Regions from separate parts of the Homo sapiens genome. Here regions 2, 3 and 4 are each linked to region 1. Evidence: fine-mapped expression QTL. A gene starts in region 1. Each other region holds a variant in brackets. All regions are shown on one strand. Distances are between the middles of the regions. Region 1 holds the start of TMEM200A (transmembrane protein 200A). Region 2 has its middle 64 kb from the start of TMEM200A. Region 3 overlaps TMEM200A (transmembrane protein 200A). Region 4 has its middle 220 kb from the start of SMLR1.

Region 1 (7,838 bases):
GCTTCTGGAAGGGACTGAAGTGAAGGCTGATATAAGCAGAGCACCAGGGAAGTCAGAGGACATATGAACAGTGCCCTAGTGCAGTGCTTTTCAAATATTAACATGCAGACAGATCACTTGAGTATGTTGCTGAGTTGCAGAGTATGATTTAATAGGTTTGGGCAAGGGCCTGAGATCTTGCTATTCTAACAGTTCCCCCGTGATGCAAATATTGCCGAGTCTCGGACTATGCTTTTGAGTAGTCAGGCACTAACGAAAGAATGACTGGTTCAGTACCATGGACAGTGGAACAGGTGGGCCACCACTACCATCTTCTCTCATTTCAGTCAAATCTCTATTATCTTCTACAGGTAGATTCTTGCAACAAAAACAGTCAAAATCTTTAAAAAGTAATTTTTGGATTTCTATAAGCTACTTGGTGATTATCCTTCAACAGGCACAAATCTGTTCAGAGGAAAGAACTGGGCTTTGGAAGGGAGAGAGTATGGCTCCTTTCACATTTCTAAATGGTACGCTGCCAGTGCCCCTCAGGCAAAAAGAATCTAATCAGGTTTATTATCTAACAAGGAGGTATCTGATTATCTAATATAGATGATTCTGTATCTAATACAGAATTTATAAATATTTAAGTAGTCGTATCAGCCTCAACATTATAAAACATCAATCTGAGAGGGGTTAGCACTGTTACTTGCACATTTAATGAACAGAAAAGAAATTAGCAACATCTTTCTGCTGTGAAATCCACTGAACTATTAGTCAATTGCACATAATGAGAAAGAAAACATGAAAAGTATGACAAAGTGCTATTCAAAATCACGGTGAAATAAAAATGACCTTAAAATTTTATTTTTAAATATATTTCCTCTACCTTTTTCTTTATCCTATATTCCTCCCCCTATTTACTTATTTCAAGAATAAAGTCAGAAAGTTCATTTTCTTTATTGACTTTACCCTCTACTTTGAAAAAGCACCCATGGCTGCTAGCAGAAATACTACAGGGGTTTTAAGACTATCAATCTATTTCACATCAAGAACAAAGCCATTCAGATAAAAATCTAGCAAACAATTCTATTTTTTCCCATTGAAGACATTTTTATTTTCTGTTTAAGGATCCCTTCTCAGGCCTAAAAATGCTATGGGCTACATTTAAGGCAAGAGGAAATGAATATAATCCCACACAAATTTTCTAATAGCCCTTCTCTTAGCCTTGTTACATGACCTCTTAAGAATACTCATTCTTTTTCATTTCAACGTATGTTTCCAAAATTAATTCATTAAATATGAATTGCCATCCATCAGACTTTTATAATACTATACCAAGAGTGAAAATGTTGATCTTCATATTTTGACCTTTTTTCATGTTAATTCTTGATTCCAGAGGAAGAGCCTTTTTTTGATGATGTTAATTGCATTAAAACAAGTTTGATGTGAGTGTATATATGTTCAATCACATATGTATTGAGGATCTGTGACTTGTAGGAAGAATATTATACACATCATTTCATTCAATTTTCACAACACTTTGAAATAGATACTTTGTTCCTACTTAAGGGATGGGAGAAATGAGGTACCAAGTCCCTCTGTTAGTAGGTGGTGGAGCTTGGATTACAGGACACTTGGATTACTCTCTTTCTACTATGCACTCTTATAAGATGGGCTTGTTCTAGTGGAAATTTACATATCTCATATAGACACAGCAAAAAATATTATGTGTGAAGTGCAGTGCTACTTGATGGCGAGAAGTAGAAAATAGTTGACTTCTATCCATTATTTCCAAAGCCGATGTGTAGCTGAATTCAAAATCCATTACTGGCATGGTATATTCACTGTCAGATGGGAAGATATTGGCCATTAGTAAGGATAAATAATTTACCTGAGATTCCCTTGAGCACTCAAGGTCAGGGAAAATTTATAACTAATGTGTTGAGAGTTGCTCGGACTACTGAATTGCAAATAATCCTCTATTTACAGGCCATTTTACCCGCCTCTTCTGAGACTAATAGTAATTATTTTAAAAAGAAATCTAAATAATTCCCTTTTGGTGATTTTACTTAGTCTATCTTTCTTCTTTTTTGGTAAATCACTAAAATCTGAGTTCATAGTTCATAAATGAGGAAGCATCAATATCTGTGGCCTTAAGAATGTGCTTATTCCTTTTTTCATGGCTCTCATCAGTCTCTTTTTGAGGACGGCTCAGTCACTCAATGCTTAAAATGGCTAGATGACCATTTTAAACGTTTTACCATGGGTCTTAGAGAGGATGTCACCTCAAATGATCTATGGACTATGAGCCTATTCCTATTACTCACTCCTTAGATAGTGAGGGGAACCAGGAGGTGTTTCCTCTCAGGAGCTTTACAGACAATGTGGCTTCAGGGTGTTTCTTTATAAAATGTAGAGGTAACTAGGAAGAGGGCCCAATGGAAGCACACTCCTTTGATATGGTGCTTGACAAACACATTTAAGAAAACCTAAGAGAATTGAGCAGGTGGCTGTGGGCTAGAATACTAGATGCAGGTGGGGTAAAAATAAAACCACAGATGGTTTATAAAGGTGACTCATCCTTCCCCCACCGTAACTCCTTTAGTTTTCTTTTCTTTCTTTTTATAAAACATTTTGATTGTGACATCTCCACTAAAAGTGCCCAATCTCTAAATTCTTCTAGTCAAGGCAAGAAGGTTATACCACAGGAAATCCATTTCTACAGTCTCTTCTCATTGCCATATCTGATTTTAAAGACTTTTTTTTCTAATGTGGAAATTTTTGCATGGCTCTCCCCCACCCCCCAAACACGGATTTTATACCCCCCCAGAAGCAAACTTTTCTTGAAAACGAGATAAACAGATCACACGCCGAAATAAACAAATACACTGCACCAGAATATCATACTTGCCTTCTATCACTTAAAACAGATCCAGGGGACACAAGCATAGCACACACCTTGTGCATGCGGCTGGCCTGCACAGGGGGTGGTTGGAATATCCGGTAATTAGTTTTACATGAAACTTTACTTACGGAATTGGCCTGCATATATACAGTCATCACCGTCTTTGCCGAATTAGAGACGACATATTTTACTCTGTGAACAGGCCAGTCTCCACTCACTGGATGTTTGGGGTCAAGGAGGAGTAACCTGAACCTCTCGTTGGCTTTGATGTTTGGAGTCGAACATCCGCACTGCTCATCGAAGACCCCCGTGCTTCAGTTCCCTCTGTCTTCCATTTCCCCCGCCCATGGTTCTCGCCCCCCCAAGCCGTTCTCCGGAACCCCTTGCCGGGCCGGCGGGAAGCGTGGACGGAGCGGGCCTTGGCCGCGTCTTTTCCGGCCAGGTTTGGTTTAGCTCGCGCAGCGCCCGCGCAGCCCGCCAGGGGGACCCCGGCCCGCCGGGCGGCATCTGAGGAGAAAGCGTCCGAGGGGCGTGGAGCCAGGGTCCTGCGGTGCCTGCTCCGGGAATACTGCGAGTCGGCTGGAGCTCCCCAGCCGCTCCGGAGAACTGGGGGAGCCGGGTCCCTGGCTCGGTAACCGGTGGTCCCGCGGTAGCTAGAGGCGGGCCCCACGGGTGGGTGTGTCCGTTTCCGCACGCCAGCCTTCCAGCCCGGGAAGAGCGCCTGCAAGCGGGTACTTTGTTCCCAAAGATGGGTTTTGTCTGCGGGTGATTTGGGCTCTCGAAGTGCAACTTTGTGGCCGGGACGCGGATCGGCCGGCCTGGGCTCCTGCAGAGCAGATCCTGTCTGCGTCCTCCAGGAGGAGTGGGTGGCAGGACTGGGGTTTCCCACAGGTTTTGGGGCGGCGGCGAGATTGGCACGGTCCGGGGTCGCAGGCGCGCAGCCACGCCCCTGGAAGTCCGCCCCGGCCCCCGCCCCCAACCCGCCTCTTCGGGGCTTTATGGCGTGAGGTTTGGGGCTGGGATCCATCTGGAGCCGAGCAGAAAACTTTTCCCCTCCCGTTCCCGGTCCCTTTTGTCTTTCTTGGACGCGGTGGCGGCGCCGCCTGAGCGGCGACTCCCTCTCCCCTGCCCGGCTTGCTGCGCCCGGTGCCCTCCGAGGGCAGGCGCGCCTGGACTCTGCGCCCGGATGGCGGCGGCCCTCTGTGAGCACCGGCAGCGGCGCATCCCCTGCCCCGAGGCCTCCGGTGCCCCCCCGGCGCGGGCATAGGGGCGCCCCCACCCTCCGTCCGCTTGCACCCCTTGCCACCCGCCCCCTCGCCTGACTCATCCGCCCGCGGTGGCCGCCCGAGCCCTGGGATGGGGAGGGAGACCGCGGCTGCCCGCGGCGGCCGAGATTCCCGCTGACGCCCCCGACCCTGCCGCCTTCTTCGTCCGCCTCCAGAGGCGCCCGACGTCCCGACAGCTCCTGGAGTGAGACCAGGACTGAGAACAGGGAGAGGCGACCCGACCCCCAGGGCCCGGTGCTCAGGACAGGTGAGGGGAAGGAAAGGGTGCTGACGGGAGTGGGGAGGTGGGTGGGCGGCCACCGCAGCCGAAACCGGGCACTTCTTCAGCCCTCTGCCCTCCCCTCCCCTCCGCTACAGCCTCCAGAGTTAGGTAAACGCTGTCTCTCCTAAAGTTTGGGAAATAAACCAAGTCCGCCATCAGGTCCAGACTCCCCAGTCCCGGGAGCGCGAGAGAAGCCGTGCGGGGCAGCCTCCAAGAACCCGGAGTACTGGAGCGCCTGGCTGGGTTTCTCCAAGCAACACCCTCCTTTGTCTCGGTTCCTGAGAGTCAGCATTCTCTGTAATGTCCACAGCGTTAATTCATGATTGAGCAAAGTATGGTCAGGGTTTCGTAAAGCAGTATCTGGATGGGGTAGAATCTACACAGGCAAAATGGAGAGGCAAAGCAATTATTTGCAAAATTCAGCACTACTCTTCTCCCTGTAGTCTTGTCTGTAAGAGAAAGGACTGAGGGCTTCTAAGATTTGCTTCATTAATCATTCTTTTGCTATAAATTGTTCCAGCCAACACTTCACATTGTGTAGGCGCAAGCTCTCTGTGTGTATTTACCGCTGTTTGATTTAGAAAAATGTGTGTGTGTTTGTGTGTTTTTTTTAAATAACAATTCATTGTTCAGTACCGGGCATTGGTAATGTCGGAGAGAAAGGCAGATGCAGCACATACAGGTAATTGACTAATTGGAATCAGCCTTAGTCCGGTCCACCTTAGTCTGGTGTATTTAAAAACTAAATATGTTGGACTAAAGTGTCTCTTGCCTTGTCTCTTCTGAATACCTTCAGAAGTAGTTATGGACAACTGCATAGAAAACATTTCAAGAATCGATGATTATTCTTGTTTATAAGAAAGAATATTGAACTCTCGGTTTTGCAATCAAACCAAGTTTGAGGCACACTTTCTATAGTGCTGTATGCATAAATATTACCAGAGCTTGTGAAAGCTATTTACTTTGTCGTTTCTTGAATTATGGAACACTTATAAAAAGACCTTCAATTTGTTATTTGGCTACTGATACTAGAAAGCATTATCATTTTGTGAAAAGTAGACTAAATTTTGAAACTTTTTAAACCTTACTTTATTTTCCCACTGTTTACCTACACAGAAGTATGTAGTTGTAGTTTCATTCTTTATAAACACCTCAAGTGAAGAATAGAAGTCCTTCTAAACAGAAAATAATGCTTCCATTAAGTGGAAACTATAGTTAAATGCTTTGACAATTTAACAGTATGATTTTTTTACTGTAAAAAACACACACTGAGGTGTTTAGAATGATTTTTTAACCAAGTCCTACTAGATAGCTCATAATTATGAGATAATGTAACTATAATTTGTAACCCTGGTTATAATTAGCTTTGTATCTGGGCTGGGAAAGCCTTCATTAGAGTTGTATGGAAAGTCCCTGTAGGTAAATTCCAGGCAGTTAGCACAGAAAGGCTTCACCTGTTGCCTTTGAGGCAGGTCTAGGTAAATGCTGTAGTGTCTGAAGACACCCGTAATCAGAAGGGATTCTTCAGGAAAGATCATTGTAAAGAGGGATGGCTGTACTTGTTATTTTAACTTAGTGGAATTTTTAGTGAAGCTTTTGAATACTACAGGAGTTAGATTGTTATATTTGGACTTGTGTAGCTTCAGAATTTTGACAATAGCTCATTGGCCAGAAAAGGATAACTACTGACATATAGAGGGAACGGATCTGAACTGATTGGTTAAATGCTGTACTTCTCATGATGACTCTTAGCATAAAGGAAAGAAATTCATATTTAGCTTAGGAAGATAGATAAGAACAAAGATAAAAGCAAATGTCAACTTTTACATTTCTTAAGCAAAATTAGTAGAGGATAAAAAATAAGCCCTTGTAGTCATACACGTTACTTATCAAATAGAGGGTAGAATTTAAAAGAGGAAAAATAACTTGTGCAGCAACAGAAATCCAAACCTGCAATGAGATGGACCTCATTTTATTAAGGAATGTATATCTGATTTACAGTTTTATCAAGCAGATCCACTTGTTCCTGGACTTACGCTATGTTTTGTCTGCTGAGATCTGATATGTGCTCAAACACTCAGAAAACATCAGTGAGTGCTTATTGTGGTGTCATGCTAGCTACCCTTCCAGGCCTTTTCTATGGGCTTATAGGCTGATGGAGAGGGGACTGATAAATGTACCACAGATCACCTGGCAGCTGAGGTGGTCTGAGAGCAGCAGGGGACCAGTGCAGACTGGGAAGCAGCATAGTGGGTTGCAGAGGGACCTGGATGGGGAGTTGTCATCTTGACTGAGTCACTAATTAGGTGGCTGTGGGTAAGTGGCTAAGTTCCTCCACCTTTCTGCTCCTTGGTGCCCTTATCTGCAGAATGAGGGCTTTGGACTGACGATCTTTATGGTCTCTCTTTAAAATGCTGCAAGGCAAATTCTGGCAGAATTAAAGAGAGACAGAAGTCAGTGTGTGTGTGTAGGAGGGTGGTTTGTAGGGTTTTGGTTGAAGGAAGCCAGGCTGGAGGGTCTTGCTAGTTGTATTGAATGGGAAATGGCAAAGAGAAGTAAAAGATGTCTGGCCTGGGACATCTGACCTAACATTGATTATGTGAATTGAAAATACATAATAAAATAATAAAAATACCAGCTTTCACTTAGTACTGGGTGGTTTTCCATGAATTTTCACAAATGATGCAATAGATTTTTGTAACAACCCTCGGAAGTAATTAGAGCAGAAAGGTGATGAAGCTGGGACTAATACTGCAAAGCACATCTGCACCAGTATGCGCCACTGCCTTTCTGCAGGATTTGTAGAGATAGGAGAAGCTAAAGCTCACTTTGGAAACCCTGAGTAAACAGGAGAGAGACATAAGGTTAGGGTCAGATTTTAGGTGAGGTTGAATTTCTGCGTAAGAATTTAGGTTACATTCTGGAACACAGAAGTCTCCAATTACGAGCTCAAGACTTCCTGAAATGCCTTGAATTCTGATTATTGATGTTTAATCTTACTGCTCCTGTTCTGTGCCCACTCCTCCTCTAAGGTCCCCCTTTCCCCAGCAGGAATTCTGGGGCTTTGACTATCACAGAGTAATTGATATGACTCTTCCAAGAGCTTTTAGTGATGCTGGAAAAAGGAAATCCATGCATTTCATATAAAGGCGAGGATTCTGGGGCCACTGTATCATTAATTGATAGGATGTGTTCTGCAAGTTGTGCTTTGGAAACTTTGTCACCAGAGGTGAAATTCCACAGAAGGCATAGAAATCTAGAAAGGTGTAAGATGAGTGTCTGTACATTCCTTCCTGTAGAGCCCTAATCACTCTGCTCTGAGCATGAAGTGCACCAAGGGGGGACAAGTCTCTGCTTACCACCCAACTGTGTGTTCACCACCCCACTTTGTGTTCATGTAGAA
Region 2 (7,838 bases), 64 kb before region 1:
TTCCTGAGGTACAGTCATCAGACTATCCAAGGTCAATGTGAAGGGGAAAAATCTTAAAGGCAACTAGAGAAAAGGGTCAAAATTACCTATAAAGGAAATCCCATCAGACTAACAGTAGACTTCTCAGCAGAAACATTACAAACCAAAAGAGATTGGGGGCCTAGTTTTAGCCTTCTTAAAGAAAAGAAAATGCTGCCAAGAATTTCATATCCTGCCAAACAAGCTTCATAAACGAAGGAGAAGTAAAGTCATTCCCAGAGAAGCAAATGCTACGGGAATTTGTCATTACCAGATCAGTCTTAAAAAAATACTCAGAAGAGATCTGCACATGGAAACAAAAGAATGACGCTTGCTACCATAAAAGCACACATAAGTACACAGATCATATAAGGCAATTATATAATTGAGACTACACTATTTATCACTTAGCAACAGTATGACAGGAACAAACCTCACATATCGATATTAACCTCTGGGACATAACGAAAGCAGTATTAAGAGAAAAGTTTATAGCACTAAATGCCGACATCACAAAGAGAGATCTCAAATTAACAACCTAACATTGCACCTAAAGGAACTAGATAAACAAAAAGCTTAAATGCTTCACTTAAAAGACACAGAGTGGCACATTGGGCAGAAATAAGACCCAAGCTTCCACCGCCTTCAAGAGACCTATCTTATGTGTAAAAACATTCATAGGCTCAAAATAAAGGGATGGAGAAAGATCAATCACACAAATGGAAAACAAAAAACAGCAGAGGTTACTATTTTTATATCAGATAAAACAGACTTTAAAGCAACAACAGTAAGAAAAGAGACAGAAGGGCATTATTTAATGATAAAGGGTTCAATTCAACACTGCGTATGCACTGAACATCAGAGTACCCACATTTATAAAACAAATTCTACTAGACCTAAAGAGAAAGATAGACAGTGATCCAATAACAGTGGGTGACTTCAACACTCCACTGACAACACTAGACAGATCACTGTGGCAGAAAACTAACAAAGAAACTCTGGACTTAAATTGGACTCTTGACCAAATGGACCTAATAGACATCTACAGAATATTCCACCCCACAATCACATAATATAATTTTTCTAATCTGTGCTATGAAAAATTCTCTAAAATTGACCATACACTTGGTATTACAGAGAATCTCAGTACATTTTTAAAAACTGAAATCATATCATATCAAGCATCTTCTCAGACCACAGTGAAGTAAAATTATAAATCAATACCAAGAAGAACACTCAAAACAACAGATGTACGTGGAAACTAAACAATTTGCTTCTGAATGACTTTTGGGTAAAGAACAAAATTAACGCAGAAATATAAAAATATTTTGAAACAAATGAGAATGGAGACACAACACACCAAAATCTCTGGGACATAATGAAAGCAGTATTAAGAGAAAAGTTTATAGCACTAAATGCCGACATCACAAAGAGATCTCAAATTAACAACCTAATGTTGCACCTAAAGGAACTAGATAAACAAAAACAAAGCAAACACAAAGCTAACAGAAGAAAAGCAATAACAAAGATTATAGCAAAACTAGATGAAATTGAGGCCAAAAAACCAGACAAAGGATCAACAAAACAAGAAGTTGGTTTTTTGAAAGGATAAACAAAATTGATAGATTGTCCTAGATTAACCAAGAAAACAAGATTGTGCAAATAACCACATTCAGAAGTGACAGAGGTAGCACTAGCATTACAACTGATACCACAAAAATACAAAAGATCCTCAGAGACTACTAGGAACATCTCTGTGCACACACTAGAATATCTATAGAAAACGAATAATTTTCTGGAAACATGAAACCTCCCAAGAGTGAACCAGGAAGAAATTGAAATGCTGAACAGACCAATAATTAATTGTGAAATTGAATCAGTAATAAAAAATCTACCAAACAATAAAAGCCCTGGACCAGATGCATTTAGAGCCAAATTCTACCAGATGTTCAAAGAAGAACTGGTACTAATCTTACTGAAAGTATTGCAAAAAATCAAGTCAGACGTATTCTTCTCTAACTCATTCTGTAAAGCCAGTATCATCCTGATACCAAAATCTGGCAAGGACAAAACAAAAAGGAAACTACAAGCCAATATCCTTGATAAACACAAACACAAAAATCCTCAGCAAACTACTAGCAAACCAAATCCAGCAGTGCATCAAAAAGATAATTTATCACAATCAAGAGGGTTTTATTCCTGGGATGCAAGGATGTTTCAACATATGCAAATCAATAAATGTGATTCATCACATAAACAAAATTAAAAACCAAAATTATATGATCATCTCAATAGACAGAAAAAGCATTTGATAAAAAAATCCAATGTCTCTTCATGATAAAAACCCTCAACAAACTAGGCATTAACAAACTAGGCACTGAAGGAACATATCTCAAAATAATAAGAGCCATTTATTGCAAACCCACAGCTGACATGATATTCAATGGGCAAAAGCTTGAAGCAAGCATTCCCCCTAAGAACTGGCACAAAACATGGATGCCCACTTGTACCACTCCTATTCAACATAGTACTGAAAGTTCTAGCTACAGAATTCAGAAAAAATAAAGAAATAAAAGGCATCCACATAGGAAAAGAGAAAGTCAAATTATCTCTGTTCTCTGATGACATGATTCTATACCTAGAAAATCCTAAGGATTTCTCTGAAAGACTCCTAGACATGATAAATGAATTCAGCAAAACTTCAGGATACAAAATCAACATACAAATATCAGTAGCATTTCTTTATTATTATTATTATACTTTAAGTTCTAGGGTACCTGTGCACAACATGCAGGTTTGTTACGTAGGTATACATGTCCCATGTTGGTTTGCTGCACCCATCAACTCGTCATTTACATTAGGTATTTCACCTAATGCTATCCCTCCCTCAGCCCCCCACCTCCAACCAGCCCCGGTGTCTGATGTTCCCCGCCCTGTGTCCACGTGTTCTCACTGTTCAACTCCCACCTATGAGTGAGAACATGCGGCGTTTGGTTTTCTGTCCTTGTGATAATTTGCTGAGAATGATGGTTTCCAGCTTCATCCATGTCCCTGCAAAGGACACAAACTCATTCTTTTTTATGGCTGCGTAGTATTTCATGGTGTATATGTGCCACATTTTCTTAATCCAGTCTATCATTAATGCATATTTGGGTTGGTTCTAAGTCTTTGCTATTAAATACCAGTAGCATTTCTATACATCCAGGATGTTCAAGCTGAAAACCAAATTGAGAACTCAATCCCATTTACAATAGCCAAACAAAAAAGAAAATACTTAGGAATACACTAAACCAAGAAGGCGAAAGATCTTTACAAGGAGAACTGCATAACACTGATGAGTGAGATCACCGATGGCGCAAACAAATGGAAAAGTATCCCATCCC[C/T]ATGAACAAGAAGAATCAATATCATTAAAATGACCATACTGCCCAAAGCAATCCATAAATTCAATGCTATTCCTATCAAATTACCAATGCCATTTTTTCACAGAATTAGAAAAAACAATTCTAAAATTCATGTGAAACCCCCAAAGAGCCCAAATAGCCAAAGCAATCCTCAGCAAAAAGAACAAATCTGGAGGCATCACGTTGCCTGAGTTTAAACTATACCATATGGCTATGGTAACCAAAACAGCATTGTAATAGTGAAAAACAAACAAACAAACAAAAACCAGACACATAGATCAGTGGAACAGAATAGAAAACCCAGAAATAAAGCCACACCTACAACCAACTGGTCTTTGACAAAGTTGACAAAAATAAACAATGGAGGAAGGACATCTTATTCAATAAATGGTCTGAGAAAACTGAGTATCCATACACAGAAGAATGAAACTGGACCCCCACCTCTCACCATATAAAAAATTAACTCAAGAGGAATTAAATACTTAAATTTATGACCTCAAAATATGAAAATTCAGGAAAAACTCTTGTGGACATTGGCCTAGACAAAGAATTTATGACTAAGACCTGAATAGCAAAGGCAACAAAACCAAAAATAGACAAATGAGATGTAATTAAACTGAAGAGCTTCTGCACAGCAAACAATAAACAAACAAACACACAAACCAGAAACAATCAATAGAATAAACAGACAACCTCCAGAATGAGAAAAGTATGCATGCAACAAAGGACTAATATCCAGAATCTATATGGAACTTAAACAAATAGCCCATTAAAAAGCAGGCAAAGGACATGAACAAAGATTTCTGAAAAGAAGATATACAAGAGGCCAACAAACATAGGAAAAAATGCTCATCAACACTAATCATCAGAGAAATGCAAATTAAAACCATAATGAGATACCATCTCACACCAGTCAAAATAGCTATTATTAAAAAGTCAAAAATAACAGATATTGGCAAAGATATGAAGAAAAGAGAACACTTACACACTGTTGGTGAGAAAGTGAAGTAGTTCAACCCTTATGGAAAACAGTATTGAGATTTCTCAAAGAACTAAAAATAGAACTACCATTTGACCCAGCAATCCCACTGCTGAGTATCTGTCCAAAGGAAAATAAATTGTTTTATCAAAAAGACACCTGCACTTGTATGTTTATCTCAGCAGTATTCACAATTGCAAAGACATGGAATCAACCTAAGTGACCATCAGTGGTGGGTTCGACAAGGAAAATGTGGTACATATGCACCATGGAATACTATGCAGCCATAAAAAAGAATGAAATAATATTTTTTTGCAGTAACATAGATGCAGCCAGAGGCCTAAGTGAACTAATGCACAAACAGAAAATCAAGTACCACAAGTTACCACTTATAAGTAAGAGCTAAACAATGGGTACATGTGAACATAAAGATGGAAACAATAGATACCAGAGGCTTTAAAATTTGAGGGGGCAAGGGTTGAAAAACTGCCTGTTGGGTACTATGTTCGCTGTTTGGGTGGCGAGTTAACTACAAGCCCAAACCTCAGCATTATGCAATACACCCATGTAACAAACTGCACATGTATCCCCTGAATCTATAATACAATAATACTCAGTACCACATATTACTGTTCCTAGAGGTGATCGACTGTGTGCCTGCCCTGGGGGACTCTACTGAACATTGCTCTCTTCGGTACCTTTCCTGCCTCTATTGTTCAGGGGCAGCATGTCTCCTGTAAGTAGGGGTCCTCTTCACTTTGTCTTTCATCTCCAGAATCACAAATCACAATCTTTTCTGTTTCATATCACAGTACAGGAGAAAAAAATAGATACCCTCACACCACATATGGCCAATGACATCCAAATTATTCTTCTATGTCTGATCTCTCTGTTGAGGTCTGAACTAAAGCAGCTAGTGTCTATTGTAATGGAGCCAATATCTCCATTTAGGTACTTAATAGGCAACTTAAACTTAACATGGCCAAAAGGTTAACTCTATATTCCTCCTCAATCTGAACCTTTTCCTCTCCCAGGCCTTTCCATGAATAGAAATAAATGTATTTATTTATAGAAACTCATTTACCCAGTTGATTAAGCCAAAAAGTTTGGAGTCAAAATCAAATTTTTTCCTTTTCTTTAAAATCCACATACCATTCATCAGTGAGTTATGTTGGCCACACATGCAAAAACACATCTGGAATCCATCTGCTTCCTTTTTCTCCACTGCTCTACCACCCCAGTCCAAAATTCCATCACCATTCACCTAGCTTGCCTCTTAACTCCTGTCCCAGTTTTCACTATTGCACCTATATGCACTTTATTGGCCTGGTAATCTTTTAAAACAATATATAAAATAATGTCACCTCCATTCTGAATATATTCTACATTTTAATTCTTTATTTTGTATGTGTGTTGCAAGTCTATCTTCCAGTTTTTTTCGTGTTTTTATTATGTTTTGATTAACATAAGGTTTTAATTTTAAAGTTTTCGAATTTATAAATATTTTCCTTTAAGTTTGTCATTTTTGTTTTTTCTTTAATAAATTCTAACTTGAGTGTATAAACATTTATCTACATTTTCTCCTATATGTTTAAATGTTTTCCCTTTCAAATGTAAGTTTTAAATTTCCTGGGACTGATTTTTATGTATTATATGAGGTACATATCCAGCTTTTTTCTTACACGGTTAAACAATGGTTTTGTCAACATTGTTGAACAGTCCTAATTTTCCCATTGATCTGAAGTGCCACCCAGGCTGAAGTGCAGTGATGTGATCTCGGCTTACTGCAACCTCCGCCTCTTGGGTTCAAGCGATTCTCCTGCCTCAGCCTCCTGAGTAGCTGGGACTACAGACACATGCCACCATACCCAGCTAATTTTTGTATTTTTAGTAGAGACAGGGTTTCACCATGTTGGCCAGGCTGGTCTCGAACTCCTGACATCAGGTGATTCACCCGCCTCGGCCTCCCAAAGTGCTGGGTGAAGTGCCAAATTTGTTCATAAATCAAGTTTCCATAAATGTATAGATTAGTTGTTGGGCTTCTCTCTTTAGTTCCACTGAACACATTCTCTATGTCTATGCTAATATTACACTTTCATCTTAGTTGCTAGAGCTTTATGACTTTTTACTGAAGTTAAAACAAATCTCTCCACTTACTCTTTTGCTTTAGGAGAGTTTTGGCTCTTTTCCGGACTCTTGGAATTCAGTGCATAGAATCATCTTGCTAAGTTCCATGAAAAAAAATTATGCCGAAATTTTAATTTTATCCAAACTTTAAGTCGAGATTATAATTGATATTTAAAAAACTATATTGAGTCTTTCTAAAAAGATGGCGTATCACTCTACTTATTTAGGTATTTTAAGATATCTTTCAATAAACTTTTGTAATTTTTCTACAAAGTGCTTACATATTTTAATGGTTTTTACTTAGTTGCTACTATAAACACTAAAATTACATTTTCTTCCTTTTTTTTTTTTTTTTTTTTTTTTTTGAGACAGAGTCTCACTCTGCTGCCCAGGCTGGAGTGCAGTGGTGCAATCTTGGCTCACTGTAGCCTCTGTCTCCTGTGTTCAAGTGATTGTCATGCCTCAGCCTTTCAAGTAGCTGGGACCACACATGTGCATCAGCATGCCCTGCTAACTTTCTGTATTTTTAGTAGAGATGGGGTTTCACCATGTTGCGCAGGCTGGTCTTGAACTCCTGAGCTCAGGCAATCCGCCCACCTCAGCCTCCCAAAGTGTAAAATTACATTTTCTATTTGTTGCTGGTATATAGAAATGAAGTAGATTTATTTACATTGGTTTTATTTCTAGCAACACTGCTAAACTCTTATATATCCTAATATTTTTCTATATATTCTGTGGGTTTTATGTGTAAACTTTCAACTGTATCATCTAAAGAATTATAGTATTTGTTCTCAATTTTAAATACTTAATTCTTTGACTTATTTTTTCCTTATCTTACTACCCTGTCTATAATCTCCAGAACAATGTTGAACAGAAATTGTGATAGGAATAATAATTTTTCCTGATTCTAAAGAGAATGTTTATATTCTTTTAGAAAAATGATAGCAATAAGGCCTTTGTAGATTCCCTTTTTCATGTTATGAACATTCAATTCTACCAGTTAGATAAGAATTTTAGTCATGAATGGATATTAAATTTTGTTAAATATCTTTCCTGAGTCTGTAAAGAAGGTCATATGGTTTTCCTCCTTTCAGATATTATTGGGATGCAATGTGTTGATTGATCTGCTGATATTCAAACAACCTTGAAATCTTGGAATAAATACAACTTGGCAATCTCATCTTTTAAAATAAATTGCTAATGTGCTAATATTGCTAATGCTAATATTTTGTTTAGGACTTGTCCTAGTCTGTTTGGGCTTCTATAACAAAACACCATAAACTGCATAACTTACAAACAAAATAAATTTATTT
Region 3 (7,838 bases), 21 kb after region 1:
AGTTCCAACATGCTGGCATTCCACAACAGCCAGATGGGAAGTATTTATGACAGGGGATAATCTGCTCCCATTCTTGGCCTTATTCACTTTGATGTTTTGAAACGTTCATGATGCCGTCTTAATAAAGTTGAAGTTTGAAAACTTGAATGTCTGGCGATGGCAAATAATCTGGTTCCCATAGCCATCTTCACTCAGCTGTGTATCCAGACATAGCTTTCTGGATCTCTGAAAATACTGATCAATAAATTATGAGCTGTTGTGATTTAAAACGCTAGTAAGTATTTTTAGTTTCCTTTTAATTTTTAGTGTTTTAACAAATCACAGGTGGTTGGCATCAAGGTAAAAATGAATATGAAGACATGGTGAATACTGCCTTCATTATGAGTATAAAAGATTATTTTTTCCTTTTTAAAATGTTTTGAATAATTCTGACAAGTATTAAAACTTTGGAGGCCATGGGACCCATAGAACCTCGTAGGAATAATTTATTCAAATTATATGAGAAAAGAAGAGGCAGGGAGCGGTGGTTCATGCCTGTAATCCCAGCACTTTGGGAGGCTGAGACGGGGGGGATCCCTTGAGGTCAGAAGTTTGAGACCAGCCTGGCCAACATGGTGAAACCCCATCTTTACTAAAAATACAAAAAATTAGCCAGGTGTGGTGGTGCACACCTGTGGTCCCAACTACTTGGGTGGCTGAGGCACGAGAATCGCCTGAACCCAGGAAATGGAGGTTGCAGTAAGCTGAGATGCCAACACTGCACTCCAGCCTGAGTGACAAAGTGAGACTCTGTCTAAAAAAGAAAAGAGAGAAAAGAAGAAATCACTTGTTAAGTACTTTCTCAACGTTGTCAGTTGTTGTTAGTCTTTTATAAGAAATAAGCTTACCGTTTGTGAATGCTTTTTGGTAGTTTATTATAAGCATTTATCATGTTACTGAAATTTTTGTAAGCATGCCTTTGTAAAGGCTGTATAATGTTCTGTTACCTGTGTTTTTATTTTTGTTTTATTTATTTATTTAAAGGTTTGCCCAGGCCAGAAAGCGGTAGCATGATCATAGCTCACTGTACCCTCAAATACTTGTGCTCAAGTAATCCTCCTGTCTCAGCCTCCCGAGTAGGTGAGACTGCAAGTGTATGCCATCACACCCAGTGAATTTTTTAATGTTTTGTAGAGATGGGGTCTTGCTATGTTGCCAAGGCTGGTCTTGAACTCCTGACCTCAAGGGATCCTCCTACCTTGGCCTTCCAAAGTGCTGCAATTATAGGTGTGATCCATCCTGCCTGGCCAGAAAATTATTGTTTTAATTAATAAAAAAGGAAATGTTAATTCTTGTGACACTTCAAACTTTCCTTTGTAGTTTCCTTGATTCAGAAAGGAATAGCATGTTTCTGATATGTATCATTAGATATTTTGTATTTTCTATCAAGCTTAACCTTTGAAGTGATGATCAAATCACATTACAATGAACTGGTCAATGGGTAGGTAACTCTCCTATAAAATTTTCTGACAGAATTTCTTTTCATTTTCTTTAGAAGTTTGAGGATGTTAGACAGTTTGGGATTGTTTTTGCTTTTCTTCTAATACACAAAAATTTACATTTGGAGTACATTTATTATCTTTTTGCAAATGGATTTATCTCTATCATAGCATCTCATCTGGTGGCAGAAAGAAACACATGACCATTCAGTCATTTCTAATATATTCTTTTGGATATAAATGTGGAAGAAAGTAGTCAGACAGAAAAAAGTAGAAAGAGGATTTGATTTGTTGACATTATGCTTCATGCATGTAAATTTGCGACATTGTCAGTTATGGAGCTCACATAATAAAAATTCTTAATTTCTTAGCACACAGAGCCGCTGAAAACGACTGAAGAGAGCAAGGGATTTCCTGGGACATCTGGCTCTGGAGGTGAGCGACAGCAGGGAATGACGTCAGGGACCTGGGAGACTGATCACCTGGATGGTGACTTTTTATGATGATTTTTTTGTAATGAGTTTATTCTTCCAGTGAGCTAACAGAGTTTATTAGTGGGACTTTGTCAGGCAATTATTTCCTTAGCTTGGTTAAATAAACCAGATGTCTTATTTGGACATTTCAAAGTTCCTTGCAATAAGCATTTTTAAATTAAGATAGAGATAGGTCTCTGCTCTGGTGAAACACTCACTGTAAAAATAATTGTATAGGTCATTTTATAGAGTAGGCTGTTTTAGCAAGACAGCTCCTCATTCCTCTCATTCTTTTCTCTCCACTCAAATCCCCAAGAGAAAAGGCCCTTAATTAGAAGCTCATTGACTACAGAAAAAAATAATTTTCTTTGCTCTTCTGTAATTTCAAAATTACATTTGTTCTGCTTGGAATAAAAGGAGGTTTATACCTTGTAACCTGTAATCTTTCATGCTGTTTTTGTTTTTGAAAACTTCTAAGAGTCTGAGCATTAACCATTTCATGATGCTATGTAATCTCATATTATTTTACATAAACTACAGAAATAATTTGCAGATGAATTTTTAGGGATCACCTTTTGCCCTTTGGCAAAAGGTGCCTTGAAATGCAAAATGAACAGTTGAGAAAACGATCCTTAAGTTGAAGAAGAAAATCCCATGTTTCTGAAATAATGTTGATATCCTGAAGAAAATTGTTTTGTATATTGGTAAGGGGACTCTTAAACTTCAATTATCTAGAATTTTTCTCTATTCTTTATTTCACTTGTGTGTATGTATCTAGGTGTGTAACTTGGTTTATAAAACAACTAACATTCAGTTTTGGGAGAAAATAATCTATTGTATTGAGAGAGCTTTTTGGCTTTCATTCTCTGAGTAATCACAGCCCCTCTAAGATACCTCTAAGATAAATGATCTCCAATACAGTAAATCCAGGAGCTTGAACAGGGACCAACCTCATTCACTGAAGCTCAGAGGAAGGGTCGGGGTATGTGGGAATGTTTTCTGTGTGCAGCACTTGAGTGTTTCAAAGTCTTCTTTGCTAAAAGGGGTAGCCACTGAGTTTGCTTAGAACGGGGCTGAAAACTGCTGTGGACCAAAATTCTGCTTGTCAGAGCCAACTGTGATTGCTCTAAAGATGCACCTTTTATAAGCTACTCTTAGAGTCACTAAAGGAAACTATGTTATTGTCAGCCAAAGACTGGCACCTGGGAATTGAAATTGATGATCTTTTTAGACCTTTAGAGAGAACCTAGGGAAGAGATTAGGAAAGTTTACCCTCTTCATCTTAGATGTCTGGTTTTTCCTTCCACATGGATGCAAAATTGTTCCAGTCCTTACCCTTTTCAAACATCAACTTCTAGTGCAGAAAGGAAACCATAGATCTTTAAAAGATACTCTAGGTGATTAGCATTAAGATTTTGTTTTCACCAAAAAATTCCGACAAACAAACCAAAAAACCCCCAAGAAATTGTAAGAATGTCGTTTC[G/A]ACAGATAGGAGCTTGGAGCATTTTCAAATAAAACAAATTTGCCTTGCATTAACTTACTGTTACTTTAAAACTATGCTCAAAGGCATATTCCTTTTTCTTCGCCAGCATCATTTGGAAGCCAGATCTTTTTATAAGGCACTCCTGCATTACTCCCAGGCACTCTTTCATGGAGAACCTATTTCTAAACCTGAAACCGTCCAGTTATGGTGGAGGCAGTCACACAGTTCATTCATCAGTAATCCTTTAATGCTGTTGAAGTGAGTGGGCAGAAGAGGGCCTTTAATTATCAATGCTAAGAGGACTTGATCTTTAAGATTCTTTCTAATTGTGCCATTTTGTGACAATATGTGTTTCTTATATGAAGGTGGTAGTGCAAGACACTGAGATGCCTAAGAGGAAAGGATGTTTTTTACCTGTGTTTATAGTAAAAATAATATAACAGCATTAAAGTCTATTGCAAAATCTCCTATAATTTCTTTGTAGCAGAATGGATATTTTTATTTGGATAGAGTTGTGTTTGTTTGTTTGTTTTTTGACGGACTCTCGCTCTGTCACCCAGGCTGGAGTGCAATGGCGTGATCTCGGCTGACTGCAACATCTGCCTCCCAGATTCAAGTGATTCTCCCACCTCAGCCTCCTGAGTAGCTGGGATTACAGGCACCCTCCATCATGCACGGCTAATTTTTGAATTTTTAGTTGAGATGGGGTTTCACCATGTTGGCCAGGCTGGTCTCGAACTCCTGATCTTAGGTGATCCGCCTGCCTCGGCCTCCCAAAGTGCTGGGATTACAGGCATGAGTCACCACACCCAGTCTGGATAGAGTTCTTAAAAGGGTAAACAACTCTTTTCTTTTCTGTTTGAATGCAATCATGTGGACTTGGCCACATGGCTTCTTAAGTCTTGTTTGCATTTGCTTAAGCCAACAGCACTCAAATATGTTAAGGGAATTCTAGATTGAAATTGTGACTTAGTTTCCACACTCTTAATTATGTTTCCCCAAAACAGTTATGCATGAGGCTCTTTGGCAACTAGACTTGAGAATATTTAGGTTTAAAATTTCTTACTTGAGTGGTTTAGAGCCCTATCCAACTTCTGGTGTCTTTTCTCTTAAAAAGCTTTTAAAATCCTGTTTGCCTTTTTCAAGGTAGGAAAGAATACAAAAGTGTAAGGGTAGGTATTCCTAAGTCTTAGAGAATTGATTTGCGGTTAGTTTCTGATTCTCAAAATAATTTTCCTTTCACAGGTGGAAGTTTTCATGATGGGAGTTGAAGGTAGCATAGCAAGTGCCGCTCAGGAAAGGGGAGAATAACAGTTTAAAACTTAGTAAGTTTATTATACTCTGTACTAGTGGAGATCCCTTGGAGATTCCTGCATCGGTTTTAGAAATTAACCAAAAAGAAGGAAGTGAAGGAGTTGAAGTTCTAGGCAAGCAATAAGGCTTGATTAAGAAGTTGGAAAATGTGAAAGGAACTAGGATTATTCTGGAGAAGGGAAGGCTTATAATAATGGCTTTCAGATGCTGTAGGACTCAGATATCTACTTTCCTAGTGAATAACCAATTAAAAAGAAAATAAACTACAACATTAGGATATTAGCTGTGTAGATGTTTCCCAAAGTGATAACCCCCTGGAATGAATTATCAAGACAGGAGTTATATCTGCCCTCAATAAGGAACATGAGGCATAGCCTCAGGGTGTGACAATTCATTGCTTAGATAAGTTCTGTTTCTGTAGATGTTAAATGTGGATTCTCGCTTGTACATGTTTTCATTCATGCATAGTATTTCACAATCTAAATTCATATATCCTTATTTTTTTATATTTCTAATAAGATGATTGGTTCTTTTGCTGAGTGGCATAAGTAGATACTCATATTTCTCAATCTTGTCATCAGAAATGATGGCTATTTGTTTTTATATTTGTAAATATATAGTTGATGTTTACATTAAATAGTTCATTACTCAATTGTAAATACTAAAATTGGCAAGAATGAAAAAATAAAACATTAGAATATCCTTACAGAAAGTATCATTGCCCCAGTTTGTGGGAATTGCATCAACCACTGCAGATAAGTGTGTTTATAAAATCACCTAACTCATGACATTTGGCACATCAGCAAGTAGCAATAATTTTAACACTAATTAGTATATTTAAGAGAAATTACTTACAAAACCTAAATCATGTTTTGAACAATGATTTCTTGAATAGATATGAGATAAAATAAATTTTATAGAAAATATAAAATACATATAATATGAAAGTAGCACTACGGTCTAGCTCTATTATCTTTAGATAAGTCAAAGATATTGTCTTTGACTCTCAACAAAGTAGAACTGTAAAATACAGTTTTAGATTCGAACTATAGATTGTTAGATTTGGATAGACTAGAAGATCTTGTAATGTAGTCCCCTGATTTTACAGATGAGCAAATGAAGATTTAGTATTGATAAAAATACTAAATGTTTTTGGTGAAATGACCACAGCTTTTTACCCAGTCACACAACAAGATATAAGTGGAAGCAGAAGCAGTTATGGGCTCTCCTGATTTCCAGCCCTGGGCACTCCCTCCTGTAGTGCACTGAACAGAAGGTCAAGTGTAGATTTTGAAACGGGCAGTCTCTTGACACTGTGTCACGTCTTCCCTCAACTCACAACTCTATATCCTACGTAAAGAACAATGTGAGAGAAAGAAGAGGTTATAAGCTTGAAAGTGATAAAGTTAATATGTATTCTAGGACCCTCTACCAAAATATTTTGAATAGGAGGAAAGCAATAATATAGCTTGTTAGAATTTTGAGAAATTCTAACAATAATATAGCTTGTTAGAATTAATGAGAAATCATTAATTTTAGATACATAATATCACAGGCCAGATTTTAACACCAATAATAACAATAATATAGCTTGTTAGAATTTTGAGAAATCATTAATTTTAGATACATAATATCACAGGCCAGATTTTAACACCAGCAGTGGGTTCAGAGAGATCCACAGAACTTCAGATTTTCTCAGAAATTTCAAAACTACTCAGTAAAATTTCCAGCCCAGTTGTGCTAACTAAGGGACTCAGATTGAGATTCCCTGGTTTCATTTTATTACATGGGCTTCCATTGTTAAAGTTCTAGGATCCCCATCCAGTTCTTTGTTAATATATTTTACTTTATGAGAACAATTAGCCGGGTAAAAATTGCTCATACTGATAACGAAGAGTTACTAATAAAAGTTATTTTGCTTACAGGTTCATTAGGCACTTGTCGAGAATGGCCAGAAACGTGTTTTGGTTTCTTAGATGTTCTGTTTAACCATGAATTGCTGTAAATGCTTATCAGTTTTCAAAAAAAGTATAAAAAATGAAATGCCCAACAACCCCCAAATTATTTTTGAATATAATTTAACTGTTTTTTCACTTACTAAATCTCAGGATCTGATAGATATGATTATAAGTCATACAGTTTTGTTTAATTAATCTTTGTGGTTTGAATGTTGGAGAAATAAGATCTCATTATACCTCTGTGTCATCTATTATAGTTTTAACCTAGAAGCATTCCGAAGTTGTAAAACCATAGCTGTAGAGCAAATTCAAATGTGTTGTGTTTTGGTGAAATGACCATGGCTTTTTACCATATCATCTGAATGTAACACACGTTGTGTATCAGAGCAGCCCTATGTGGGCTACAGTATGTCATTTAATCTCAGTGAGCTCTTTCTGACTTTACAGAGTGAAACTAGTACTGCCTACTTGATAGGACTGCTGAGGATTAAATGATAAAGTATGTTAAAAAGCTTGACAAACCTTAGTATTCTTTATACCCTTAAAGGTACAAATCCTGTCTTTTTTATGACTATTTCTCCTCCATAGCATAGAGGGGAATGTGTTGCATATAATAGTATTTCTTACTTAATACTGATAATGGAGTGAGACTATGAAAAGCAAATACTGCATAGCAAGGAGGAGATATCTGCTAGAATCAGATATTGACATATTAGCTTGGCAAATTGCTCCTTCTAAAGTCAGCTTCCATGTTGGTGAGGCTGCTTTGAATCTCCCAGGCACCTTTGAGTTTTTGTTCACTGCTCTGCTCTCTGTCAGCTCACCTTCATCACAATAGGGTTTCTCAACCTCTACACTATTGACAGTTTGGACTGAATAACTTTTATGCATTGTAGGGTGTTTAGCTCCATCTGTAACCTCTACCTACTGTGTGCTAGTAGTGCTCTACCCCAAGTTGTAGCAAAAAATTGTCTCCAGACATTGCCTAGTGTCCTCTGCGGGACAAAAATGCCTCGGAATGAGCACCACTGCATACATACAGCAGTCACTGCTTTGTGATGTAAATATCAGTTTACCTGTGCCCCTTCTCACCAGACTGCCAGCCCCTAGAGGGTAGTGTGATGTCTTTCTC
Region 4 (7,838 bases), 240 kb after region 1:
CTTTTGGATTTCCTTTTCATATTTGCTTGCTGATTAACTGAAATCCATTTTCAGGTCATAAATACAAAACTAAGAGCAAAAATCAGAGAGAGTAAGGAAAAGGTGTCTACTGTGAATCCATAGAAGTGTTGATTACATATATACCTTATAAAACAAGGAAACTCAATTTTTACCTTGTACATGGTTTCAATTTATTGTTGTCTACAAAAATCTCCAACCCCTGATTTTGGTCAATAATGTAAATTTATTTCATGTTCTTTAATTACTAAATATTTCAGGTCTACAATGTATATGTAGATATATAATACTTGAGAGAGAGAAGAGAACTATTAGTTATAATAAATGTCATTACTTTGTGTTTTCTTCTCAGTGATTCAACATCAGTGGTTATCAAAGTGTGGTCCCTGAACCCAAAATAGTATCACCAGCAACTTTGTTAGAAATACAAATTGTGGGCCCAGGCCCAAACTTACAGAACCAGAAACTCGGGGGGTAGGGCCCAGCATTCTGTTTAACAACAAATTCTGATTCTGATGAATGCTTCAGCTTAAGAGCCACCATTCTACACCTTGCAGATGACTTCCAAATCGACATCTGTTTCCAAATGCCTAATGAACACAGACTTAGAGATATAGCACAATCCAAATATCTCAAAATTCAAGTTTGTCATCTCCTTGATAAAACCAGTTTCCCTTCCCTGTACTCCCTAATACTCCCTAATACTACCTGTACTCCTTAGCTAATCAGAGCTGTCTAATTACCAAGTGTGTTAGTTTTCTATTGATTGTTGCATTAAAAATTCCCCAAACTCAGCTCACATAGTTTCTGAGAGTTGGAATTCTGCGAACAGCTTAGCTGAGTGGTTCAGGCTCAGGATCTCCTGTGAGGTTGTGGTGGTCAAGATGTCAGCTGGGGCCGGGTGCGGTGGCTCACACCTGTAATCCCAGCATTTTGGGAGGCCAAGGTGGGCAGATCACGAGGTCAGGAGATCAAGACCACGGTGAAACCCCATCTCTACTAAAAATACAAAAAAAAAAAAATTAGCCCGGTGCAGTGGCGGGCACCTGTAGTCCCAGCTACTCGGGAGGCTGAGGCAGGAGAATGGCATGAACCCGGGAGGTGGAGCTTGCAGTGAGCTGAGATCGCCCCACTGCACTCCAGCCTGGGTGACAGAGCGAGGCTCCGTCTCAAAAAAAAAAAAAAAAGAGAGAAAAGAAAAGAAAAAAAGATGTCAGCTGGGGCCATAGTTATATAAAGACTTCTTTGGGCTAGAGAAATGACTTTCAAGCTCACTCACATGGGTATTGTCAAGAGGCCCCAGTTCCTTACCACGTGTGCCTACCATAGGGCTAATTACTAGAAGGCAGCCACTTCCCCCAAGCAAATATTCAAGAATAAGCAACCAAGGAAAAAGGGCACACTGATTTTATAACCTAATATCAAAAACCACACACCATCACTTCTGCCATTATTGGTCAATGAGGCCAATCCTGGTACAATGTGGGAGGGGATGACATGAGCATGAGACTACCAGGAGGTGGGGATCATTGGGAGTCATCTTGGAAGCGTTAACCGTGCCCAGACAAGTATTACCAGGAGATTTCCAACTCTCTTACTCTCACTGTTATATACAACCCATAGCCAAGACTCATCAATTATTCAGTATCTCCCATGCCTGTCCCCTTCATTGTAGTACTTTTCCTGACTCACTCTTCTATCTCACTATCTTGCCTCCAATCTCTATACTATTCCAACATTCCTTCTCACAGCTGGGTAACATTCCTAAAATACAAGCCAGATTTGCCACAACAGACCTTCAAAACCTCTCTTGCTTCCTATCAAGTAAGTGATTCTTACTTAGAATGGCATTTACAGCTTCCTCTGACCTAAGTATAATCTGTCTTCCCAGGACCATTTCCTGCTATAACTCTTCATTCTTCTCTCTCCAGGCCAATGATTGGATATCTTCCCCAACTCTTTGTTTCTAGCAAAGCTCTTTTGATATTCTATTTATCCAGAACAACCTCTTTCTACTCCAAAGCCAAGATCAGATGCTGTCTTTACTGATATTCCAGTCAGAATGAATTATTATCATCCACGGCATGTTATACCTCCAATACAGAATTAGTTGCAGCTGTAGTTAGTTGTTTAAGAGTCCCTATTTCACCTACAGATTTTAATCTCCCCAGGGTTAGGGGTTTTCAGTTATCTTTATTATCAATACAATATTAGGGTTTGTTGAATTAAAATATATAATTTCAATAGGCCCTTTCATGTGAGAGATGATTCATACTATTCTCAACAATGCAAAGGAAAGGTATTTAAGTTTGAAATAATCATGACTATTCCCCTAAAGAGTAGCCCTTCCTACAAAGTTTCTAGTTGGAAAAGTAGCCTACAATATCCAGGCTATATTTTCATTTGAAAGACTTTTCCTACAGACAGATGGGACAGTCTCCTTTTACAATGGAACCTAGAAATGTGCATGGAGATGGAAGTGGTGAAGGCTCGTAAGTGTGGCTTATAAACGTGTTAAAATCTAGGGTGATGGGAGCCCCTAAAGGGTTTTTACAAGGGAAGTACCTGATCAGATTTTTATTTGGAGGAATTGCCTCTGAGGGAATTACAGGCTACCTGTCTGAATTGGACGGGGACAGAAGTCAAACCAACGGGTGATGGTGGTACGCTTGTCTACAGTGAAGGCAGAAAAGATGGAAAGAAGAGAGTTGCTCAGGGGGTAGAACTGGCCAGACATGATGATTGATTGTGAGGGAGAGAGCTGAAGGTCTGGAATGATGCCCCGGTGAGGGTTTTGTGCCTGTGAATCTGGACCTAGGATCAGGACTCAGTGGGGAAAAACACCTTAGAGCATGAACTTTGCACAACATGGTACCAGCATCATTGTCATGTATGGAAGACAGCCCATTCTGGAGAGAGGCCACAGGAGCTATCAGGAAATTACGCTGACCTTTTTTCACAAATGAATAGGCTCAAAATTAGATTCTTACACCGACTGACTAAAGGGAAAGCTATTAAACTGTCAGACAAGAGCTCTCCCTGGTTTTTATGAGTTACCATGATTCATCGTTCCAGGGGAAGGAGCTGAGCAAGAATCATTTCCGTGGCTTCTCAGGAGTTCCTGAAAGATCACACGCTACAGCATGAAAGCGGAAAGACTGATTCATAATGATAGCA[C/T]CAAATATCAAATCAAACATCTAAATACAAAGTGTGCATGCTTGATATGTGATTATCAGGCATGTGATGAGGTTTTACTAAATCAACTTGATTGTTCTGGTTAGTATTATGAACGCCCTTTCATCTGAGGGTAGGGATGATAGAGATACAGAAGATAGCCACATATAACACAAAATCTTTCTAACTAAACATAGTTGACACCAATTATGACAGTCTCACATATAACATGCTTCACGTGATTAAGGGTTCTTATATTACATGGTACATTTGAGTACTGGTGGGGAAATGGCCAATAAAATACAGCATATCTTCCAGGGAGTTTTTTAAACATTTGCATTTGGATACCCTGAGAGGAAGCAAGTATCTTTCAGCCCACAGCCACAGATATGCTTAATTCTCTCACCGATAGTATTGCCTGGCTTCTGAGTTGGGAAATCTGAAGGAGAACAACCAAGAATGCTGAAATGGGGCAGGGCGCGGTGGCTCACGACTATAATCCCAGCACTTTGGAGGCCGAGCCAGGCAGATTACCTGAGGTCAACATGGTGAAACCCTGTCTCTACTAAAAATACAAAAATTAGCCAGGCATGGTGTCACACACCTGTAATCCCAGCTACTCGGCAGGCTGAGGCAGGAGAATTGCTTGAACCTGGGAGGCAGAGGTTGCAGTGAGACGAGATTGCGCCATTGCACTCCAGCCTGGGGGAAAAGAGCGAGACTCCGTCTCAAAAACAAAAAACAGAAGCAAAAAGAGTGCTAAAATGGGTATCCTTGAGAACAATTAATACAAGTCACTGAGCTAATTTGAAAGGAGACAGAAACACAGGAGGGTCGCCCTGCAGCTTAGAGTATCTCCCTGCCCAGGATATGCATCATCCCTCTGAAGCCATGCTGGCCCTAACCCTTATTATTCCCCTTAATAGCTCTTAAGGTACAATCCCTAAAAAGTCTTAGGAGGCCAGGCCCTGTGTGTGTGGATCCTGCTCCCACTTCCAGATTCTTGTCCCATCACTCACTTACCTTTCAGCAATCTGACCTCCATCCCCACAGAGCATCGCAGGTCATCGCAGCAGAGCCCTGTGTGGCATCCCACCCAGCTCCCCTTTCAAGCCCAAGGCACTCATTTCCCCCAGCTGCTAGGAATTTAAGCTGCTTAGCTCACACCTGAGTCCCACTTTGGGAATTGCCCTCACCTGGTTCTCCTAAGGTCATGCCCCCACCTCGGGACAGAAGATTGGTCCATAAGTAGCCTCAGAGGCCTGAATTTTAGGCAGCTCCAAAGGACACTCCAACTCCAGAGCCTCCTCCTTTCCTTACAGGTGTTATTCGTGAAAGCACACCCGATAAACACCTGGCCACAAATCTCTGTTTCAGAGTCTGTTTCCAGGGAGCCCACACCAGGACACAAGCCCTCCTCATGCCTGCCCCAAAGCCTTTGTTTCTGTTCTTCCCTCTGTCTGAAACATTCTTCAGCCATCCTCCTTTCCCTCTTTCCCCAAGTGTCTCACCTACTCCTCTTTCTTAGTTCTGGGGTCACTTTTCCAAGAATGTCTTTCCTGAAAGTCCAGTCTAATTCAGGTCCCACTGTTCTATGCTTTCGTGGAAACCAGTTCCCTTTCTTTATAGGGCTTCCATTTGCAATTATGCAGACATTAATTTGCATGTCTGCCTTACCTACTCCAGTAAACTCCATGAGAGAAGGAGCTCTGTTCCTTCTCACATTGGTGTTCCAGCATACAGCAATGAATCTGGCTCAAGTTTGGAATTCAACGAATAGACATTAAATTGTCTGGTGGATTAATTGATTGATTGGTGGAGTGAATGGCCTCTGCCATCAAAGTCCTTTCTTTTTCTGATTCATCTTCCTGATAACAGGGAGCCCCATTTTCTGGTGACCATTCCTCACTGTGAGGTTTTTAAAGTGCAACCATGTGATAAGCTGTAATTATTGTCTTTACCAAGATCATCTTAAGCATTGTATGTTTCATCTGTCAAATGCTAATCATCTAAGAATGTTGAGGCTGAAAACAAGAGAAATGTATGCATCCTCAGCACTGTACTTTCATGGTAGGAATTCCAAATAGCTAATGGACAATAACAATAAAATAGCTCAGTATTAAAATCAGGATCACTACTTCACCAAAGTCTTTTAAAGTGTTTGTAGTAAAGTTGTGGGAGATTGAGCTCTAAAATGCAGAGGAAAAGAGCTCTTTTTACTTCTACTTTCAGAGACTTTTGTTCTAGAAATTATTTTTAGTGTCGGTAAATTATGCTAATTAAGACAACTAAACTAAAAAAGTATATTTAGAACCAAGAGAACATATTTTACTAATGGTTTATGATTTCCCAAGCAGATTTAAAATTAGATTTATGTTATTTTAAGATATTTTTGTTTATCCAGCCAAATGTCACCCTAAAGGTCAAGCTGGCCAGAGAAAAGGGAGAAATTACTCTCCAACCAGCATTTTCTAAGCACATTCACTGAGCAAGGAATTCAAAGCCAAGGTCATTGGTGTCAGGAGAGATATAGTCTCGGAGGTTGCTGAATGATTCTAAAATCTTGTTAAGGACTCTGAAAAAGAGAAGAGAAAAGCCAGATCTTGACAGGCCGGAGCTTGCCTGGTGCTGTCAGTACTGTCCTGGCACTCAGAGCTAGGTTGTGGTGCTGTCCTGCTGAACACAATTTCACAGAACACCCACATCAGTCAAGTCCCCTGTATGACTTTGATAGATCATGACAAAATCAAGACACTTCCAAAAGATGTCTGAACTTGTACAAAAACAAGAACATTGTCCAAACCCCCCAAAATATTAAACATCCCCTACCCTAGCTGATATGAAAGCTGCTTCTTTACCAATTACAGCTTTAGCCTCACTTCATTCCTCCTGCCATATAGATAAGATTTATAAAAGATACCCAGTCATAGAATTGCTTCCCAACAGCATCCAATCTGGAGCAAAACCTACTTCCTTGAATCTTCTCAAAAATTGTCTAACACAAGCCCAGATCATGTGGGTCCTTTCTACCACGTTCTTATTGAGTCACCCCACAGCTCTCCATGGTATATGGTCTTCCTCATTGGAACAAGTCAATAAACTCCATTTGGTTTAGCTATGGTTGTACTGCAGGTGGTCTTTCATTGGGGGCCATAGACAACTCTCAACAGAGAAAGAAGTAACATTTAGAGAAGATATGGTTACAGTCAAATTGCCTTTATTAAATATTTAAACTTGAAATATACACACTTATTTCCACACCTTCACTCTAAAGCCAAACCAATAATTTCATAGTGTAGTAAACATTTGGGGCAAAACAAATTATGAATCAAGTCCTTCCTGTATCTCAGATAGGAAACGATAAATGATGGAAAGTCAGGAAATATAATAAATAGGGAAACAAAAGGACTATAACCTTTTAAGTAGCAATTGTCAAGACCATTAAGTAGAGTCGAGTCCTGGTGAAGCACAGTTGTCATGGGGAATAGGAGAAGAGTGGCCTCCGAGGAACAAGGTGAGCCCTGAGTATTAGGGCCAAAGCTCAGGCATAGAACTATGCAGGCGATATGGTTTTGCAAGGCCACAGGCATCGTGCTTTCCTGCATATGCCTTTACCTAAACAGTCTGTTTTCTTCTCTATTGTAGAATATGTTATTCACTTACTTAAATTTCATCTGATTTAGTTCAATGGTATATGCGGACTTTTTTTTTGGTCTTTACATATCTATAAAGGCACTGTTATCCAAGTCTCAGGTTTAAGTCTTAAGTTTTACCCAAAAAGGTTTAGAATAATCTAAGGAAAGTATTCCTCTGTGATATATTTTTAAGCAAACAGACAGAGGGAAATCTGATTTATCCAATAATTAAAGGAATAATACTAAGTCTATGTATCTTTTTTATAATGGTATACTTAATCTGAGAACATCAGAGCATTATAACAAAGACATTCCATGCTACAGTCAGAGAAACTCACAGTCTAAGAGGTGCCAACCCTAACTAAACAGGCACAGTGAGGATAGTGTTGCTCCAACTGATAGTTCCAAGTAGTAGCTTCTTGTTTTTTAAGTTTATTTTAATTTTGATTTTTTACAAATGTCAAGTAAAATGTTACATAAAAACATGTATTGGGCCAGGCGCAGTGGCTCATACCTGTAATCCCAGCACGTTGGGAGGCGAAGACGGGCAGATCACAAGGTCAGGAGATCGAGACCATCCTGGCCAACGTGGTGAAACCCCATCTCTACTGAAAAAATACAAAAAAATTAGCTGGGTGTGGTGGCGCATGCCTGTAGTCCCAGCTACTTGGGAGGCTGAAGCAGGGAAATTGCTTAAACCTGGAAGGCAGAGGTTGCAGTGAGCCAAGAATGTGCCACTATGCTCCAGCCTGGCAATAGAACAAGACTCAGTCAAAAAAAAAAAAAAAAAAAAAGCATTAACAGGCAATATAGTGTGAAGATTAAGAACATAGACTACATTTAAACAGACTTGGGTTTTCAGCCTGACTCTGTTGCTTTCACAGAACATGACTGCTGTGATTTGGATGTGTCTCCCAAAGTTTATGTGTTGGAAAAGTCCTCTGTACAACAGTGTTAGGAGGTGAGATCTAATAAGAGGTTATTAGATCATAAGAGCTCTTCCCTCATGAG

What was found. PIP is the estimated chance that this variant, and not a neighbour inherited with it, causes the effect. A credible set is the group of variants that fine-mapping cannot tell apart.
Region 2: its variant is the best candidate, but not a certain one, in a credible set for the expression of TMEM200A in whole blood (INTERVAL, PIP 0.79).
Region 3: its variant is the best candidate, but not a certain one, in a credible set for the expression of TMEM200A in whole blood (TOPMed, PIP 0.75).
Region 4: its variant is the best candidate, but not a certain one, in a credible set for the expression of TMEM200A in fibroblasts (GTEx, PIP 0.50).

What each region holds. Positions count from the first base shown.
Region 1 is chr6:130,362,105-130,369,942 of GRCh38, forward strand. TMEM200A (transmembrane protein 200A) reads left to right here and starts at 3,913. Exons shown (of 3, transcript NM_001258277.2): 1 at 3,913-4,420. It also overlaps a transcript of SAMD3 not described here. RefSeq lists silencers at 187-387, 3,347-3,446.
Region 2 is chr6:130,298,063-130,305,900 of GRCh38, forward strand. It overlaps a transcript of SAMD3 not described here. Among named protein-coding and RNA genes, the nearest start is that of TMEM200A, 64 kb to the right of the region's middle. The variant C/T (reference allele first, on the strand shown) is at 3,402.
Region 3 is chr6:130,383,324-130,391,161 of GRCh38, forward strand. It overlaps TMEM200A (transmembrane protein 200A), which reads left to right. Exons shown (of 3, transcript NM_001258277.2): 2 at 1,850-1,913. Among named protein-coding and RNA genes, the nearest start is that of TMEM200A, 21 kb to the left of the region's middle. The variant G/A (reference allele first, on the strand shown) is at 3,435.
Region 4 is chr6:130,599,380-130,607,217 of GRCh38, forward strand. No RefSeq gene overlaps it. Among named protein-coding and RNA genes, the nearest start is that of SMLR1, 220 kb to the right of the region's middle. RefSeq lists an enhancer at 2,581-3,780. The variant C/T (reference allele first, on the strand shown) is at 3,196.